Linked DNA regions of Homo sapiens: region 2 is linked to region 1. A link means that fine-mapping ties the variant in region 1 to the expression of a gene that starts in the linked region. Tissue or cell type: sun-exposed skin. Region 1 holds a variant in brackets; the other region holds the start of a gene. All regions are shown on one strand. Distances are from middle to middle.

The links. PIP is the estimated chance that this variant, and not a neighbour inherited with it, causes the effect.
Region 2: SLC44A3 starts here. The variant in region 1 is fine-mapped to the expression of SLC44A3 in sun-exposed skin (GTEx, PIP 0.99). The same link has a PIP of 0.9 or more in unexposed skin.

Annotation. Positions count from the first base shown.
Region 1 is chr1:94,886,401-94,889,082 of GRCh38, reverse strand. The region is part of intron 12 of SLC44A3 (solute carrier family 44 member 3); the gene reads right to left. Among named protein-coding and RNA genes, the nearest start is that of CNN3-DT, 39 kb to the left of the region's middle. The variant A/C (reference allele first, on the strand shown) is at 1,107.
Region 2 is chr1:94,819,048-94,821,729 of GRCh38, reverse strand. It overlaps SLC44A3 (solute carrier family 44 member 3), which reads right to left and starts at 1,373. Exons shown (of 15, transcript NM_001114106.3): 1 at 1,252-1,373; 2 at 674-781. The coding sequence starts at 1,278. It overlaps SLC44A3-AS1 (SLC44A3 antisense RNA 1), which reads left to right and starts at 1,498. Exons shown (of 6, transcript NR_160780.1): 1 at 1,498-1,774. RefSeq lists a silencer at 1,180-1,369.

The DNA of each region.
Region 1 (2,682 bases):
GGTTCTTAAAGACAAAAGGCTGGGCCAGGCACGGTGGCTCATGCCTGTAATCCCTGCACTTTGGGAGGCCAGGGGTTGGGGCAGATCAAGAGGTCAGAAGTTGAAGACCAGCCTGACCAACATGGTGAAACCCTGTCTTTACTAAAAATACAAAATATACATATATATGTGTATATATATATATATATAGCCAGTCGTGGTGGCACATGCCTATGATCCTAGCTACTGGGAAGGCTGAGGCAGGAGAAACGCTTGAACCCGGGAAGCAGAGGTTGAAGTGAGCCGAGATCGCACCACTGCACTCCAACCTGGGTGACAGAGCGAGACTCCGCCTCAAAAAAAAAAGACAAAAGGCTGGAAACCATATCCCTGATAGGGCACCATGCTTGCCTTAGAGATTTTCAGTGAGACGTCAGATGAATTTCCTGCAAAAAAAAAAAAGAAAGTTCCACAAGGAAATTTTGGTTTTGGACTTACATAGAATGTGCGTGAAATTTGCTTTGAAAATCTCAAACCAGCTGTTGCTGGAAAGCTGCTCCAGTTTGGGGGCCTGAGTCTTGTGCAGGGATGTGGAAACTCATTTACTCATATTATTTAACTAGGCATCTTCAATCATCTTGGGTTTTCAAAGCCCTGATGACCAATCTATTCATTCATCCTCAAAGCACATCTGTAGGATGGGTGGGTGAAGAATGGCATAATTGTTCTTTTATAGACTGGAAACCAAGATCAAGGGCATTTCCCCCAGGTCCCCTGGTGAATCCATGAGACAGAGACCGTTTTATTTTAATTTTTTAAATTCTAACCTTCTGGACATTACACTATCAATTTTCATTAGGAAAAATTGCTATTTAAAAGCATGGTGGTTACGGTAAGCACAGGCTCTGTAGCCAGACTGTCTCTGTGCTCAAATCCCAATTCTACCACTGACTAGCTGTTGGTCTTGGGCAAATGATCTAACCTCTCTAAGACCTCAATTTCCTCATCTATAAAATGACTTACAGCACCTACCGCAAAGGGATGTTGGGAGGATTAAAGAACCTACTCCCTGTAAAGCACAGAGAAAATGTGTAATAAAGAGTGGTTATTATCATCCAGACATCACC[A/C]AAGATGATCTCATTTACAACTGGGAACACAGAGGCAACTCTTTAAGCACCTGAGGAGGTGTGGCAGGGGCCTGTAGTTGCTTTACCTGTAGGCTTTAATCCCTCACACCCACAGGGATCCAGGAAAGGGCTTTTTAGACCACCTGCCAGCCCCCAGCATCGTCTTACAGCAGCTCCACCATTGCCGCTCAGCCTCTGTCTCTGCCTCCTCTCTTCATTCAGGCTGCCTCCAGCCCACCACCCCATCACTTCCCCACTCTAAGCTTCCTAAAGTGCTTCTTGCTTCCCATGGGGAAGCACTGTTTTTGTGGGGACTTCTTTTTCTGCAGATCACTGCCTCGTATTTAATTTAGCACCATCTCTCATAAGTAGTAAAAACAGATTTCGCTCTTTGGCTAAAATGATTAAAATTTAAAAAGGTATTATACTTTCTCATGCATGTGTTGACTCCAAAGAGTTTTGGGGCCCATAAGCATTTATCTTTTCTTATGTATCAGGCCCACTGAAAGAAGGCATTAAAAGCACTCTGATAGAGAAATTATATATGCCTTCCTGCAGGTACCATACCACTAGCATTTTACCAGATTCAACCCTGAGTGCAACAGAGAGATCTAGAATTAACATCTGAATGAATAGGGGGAGGAGGGAGGAATCACTCAAGACACAGGATACGGATTAAACATTTCTGCAGCTTCAGCATTAGCTAATTTATACTTATTCTGAGTAGAAGCTGCTTGTCAGGCAGCTGGAAGATGGAGTGCACTAACATTTTCATCGTAAGTCCTTGTTCTGAGCATTTGTATTTGCCTGGGATGACAGAACTCAGGATTAACGTGCCAAGGTAATCTGCAGACTCTAACAAAATGTGGAAATGATTGGCCATAATAAGGACTAGGAAACACGTTTTATTGGTTGTGGAAGTTAAGAGATCCTAAAGGCTAACCTTTAAACAAGCAAGCAGGAGGTAGTGGCATTCGGCTTTTGATTTATTCCCAAAATTCAGTGTGCATACTTCTTTAGCATCACAAAACAGGTGGGTGGATATTTCTGTCTTGAAATTGAAGCTATAAACACACAAGACAGATACGAGGAAGGATTCCCAAGTTGGCATTGGTAGTATCTCAATATTATGTCCCAATTCTCACTCCCTTGCTTGGGATCCAAGACTCCCTCCAGGTACAGGTGGATTAGTTTTCAGACTTTAATGGACTGGTCACCTGGGACTGTCCCGAGTGGCTGAGAAGCACTGGGGGAAGAACACAATGAGGACGCCCTGTGTGGCTGTGAGGGCTTCAAAACAATGAAATACATAGCACAAGTGCACATGTGAGGGCCACAAAGAGCAGAACCACAAGCTGGAGGGAGAGGGGAAGAGAGGGCCCAGCAGGAGGGATCAGGGAAGGCTTCATGGAAGTGGCATACGAGCTGGCCCCAGTGTTGCCTGTCTCCAGCAGGGTAGGAGGCAGCAGCAGGAGCCAGCAACATGAGCCACAGACATGAGCATACCAGCAGGCTACTGGGGGGCCCCAGCAGAGGAGAAATGGGAAACAGGTCTGGAAGAGTCGGGGGTCAGCCC
Region 2 (2,682 bases), 67 kb after region 1:
CGTGAAAGTGGCCTTTGAAAATGTCGGGTGAGACGTTTTCTGCTGTTACCTACAATTCTAAAATAAGTATAAAAGCAGCAAGATTCGGCTTCCAACAGACTCTCTCAGGATTATAACCGCATAGCCTGATGGAGTTTACCAGCAATCATACATACCTCGAAATTAGAGTGGGAAAAATCATTCCTTGTTAGCTATGGTTAACAGTGTTGGCTGCTAAACACAACATATCTCTCGCGCGCGTGTGTGTGTGATGTTCAGCTAAAGGAAATGCAGTTTATTTCTAGGCTTACCCTGGCTTTTCCTTTGTTAAAGGTGCACCAAAAGCTTGAGGAATATTTGATTTGGGGGTGTGGCAGGTGCTAAAAGAACTTCTGTTCAGTAAGTTCGGAGAGTAAAAGGAGACACATTGGCCTTACTAAATAGCAATCACATTGCAAACTGTTAATTCCCATTTCCTAATGGAGTCACCCCTTAGAACATGGCCTGTAGCAAAAAGACAGCCTTTCTAGCGAGTCTAGGACAAGAATTCTCCCGAGTACAAACTGATGTTTATTGTGGGTTAACGGCAGAAGTCTCTCACTGCAGCACCAACTACGATTTACATTTGGGACAGAGTTATTTCCAGACGTGCACACACACTCTGGCCTCTTTCCTACCAAGCACCCACACTTACCAAACCAGTCCAAAAGAGAAAGAACAGGAATAACCATGCCGTATCTGTGCATTTCCTATAAATCTGGGGTCGCCACTCCCTTTGCCTAGGGGCTCCTTCTGCAGAAACCTTCCAGAAAAAGGGAGAGTTGAGAAAAAGAAGATAAACAGGTGGACTCAACCTGGAAACCGAACCCAAATCTACTCGAAGAGGGGCCAAAGTAACCAATCTTTTTCTAAATTTTTAAAATTAATATTATTTTTTTACGTGGCCACCTGAAGCTCTTTCACACAGCCTTTGAAACACCTGCTCTGCGCGGAGCGGATGTTAAGCCCCCTGCCGCCAAGTGCTTACCTGGAGGTGCACCTGAGGACGACCCCAAGTTTGCGCCCCGCGGCCCGCGTCTCCCCCGCCTCCGCCCCAGCACTGGAGCAGGGTCCAGGTTCCTCCCCGCCAGGTGGCCCCAAGGTACTAAGCGGGGGCGGGATCCCCGAGGCGCGGGAAAGGCGGAAGCGTCCGGCAGGGAAGGTGCGTGAAGGCGGGGGACTCGACCCTTCCCCGGGGCTCCTCCCCCGAGGGCCGAGGCTGCGAGCGCTTACCAGGTACTCGGCGCCCAGGCAGTGCATCGTGCGCTCGCCGGCGGGGGCCGGTGACTGGGAGCCGCCGCCGCCTCCTGTACGCGGAGACGCAGCGCCCGCGAGCCGGGGCCGGGGCCGGGGCTGGGGCTGGGGCTGGGGCTGGAGCCGGGGCCGGGCCGGGGAGGGGCGGGCACGGTGCAGCGCCGCCTCCCGTTCGCCTCTGCGCCTGGCCCGGCGACTGCGGGCGCTGCGGTCCACTGGGTCCGCCTCTTCCCGGCATGGGTTTCTGCCCAGCTCACCCGCTGTCAGCTGGGGTCCTGCTCTGGTGGGAGGAAGAGGCTCAGACGCTTCCCTGCCCTCTCGCCTCAACCACCTCGAGGCAGCGGCTCCCAGGATGTGCACTTTGACGACTAAAGCTGAGCCGGCGCCGCCACGACCTTGGGCGGGTGGTCGGCCTCTGCCCTGAGCAGGAAGTAGAAAGTCTCAGCAGACCCTTCCTGAGGGCCGAGCAACAGTGTAGTGGCGTATTCCACATAGCAAACAGGTAAGCAGCATTTACTGTGTGCTGGATTCTGTTCTCACTGCTATTGTTATTCCTAATCTACGGAGGAGGGAAACTGAGGCACGGCCATTGGTGATGCAACTTGTTCGAGGAGACCCAGTAAGTTGTGGAGGCAGGAGTCGAACCCAGACACTCCGGGAGACCGGCGCTCTCGAGGTGGTTTACTCTGACTTCTCTCCCACCTTGCCTTAGGACAATCATTGCCTGACTTCGCAATTGAAATGGTAGTGTCCACTGAAGCGACTGGTGGCATAGTTTTCCAGGTAGTGTCAGACCAGCGCAAAAGCACTGTTGGGGTGAGGAATTTAAAAAACGAAAAACAAAAAAAACTGCAGGCCGACCTCCCCCCACCTCCTCTCAATCAAGCCTCTACCCTTCCCCCTGCCACCCTTAGGGTTGCTAGGTTAATTGCTTCCTTTAGGTGCTGCTTCTCCCTAAGGGTAGAAACCTGACTGGAGGAAAGATCTGGGTAAGTGGGAGAAACTGGGAATGATAGACAGTGGTTCTCTGGTGCCAGCGATTTCCTTCTGGGCTCACACCACCCTCCCACTGCAAACTCACTGGGCCTTCCTGGATGCATGTTTATCAGACAGAGTAGGTGAAACCCCAGGGGAACATGAATTCATAGGACAAAGAATTAGACACTGGAGGAGTGCAACTACTGTTAAAAGACCACAACTGAATAACATATGCCATCTGAAACTGATCAGTAGAGCAGATGGACCAAGATTTTTAAATAAGCATGATAAATTTATTTAAAATGAGTTATGATATTAGCAATATGAATCAGGAAAAAATATGAAACTAAAACATATTAAGCATAAAAATAATAATTAGAATGAATATTGATGCTACGTATTAGTAATGTGCAATAGTCTAAAAGATGCAGC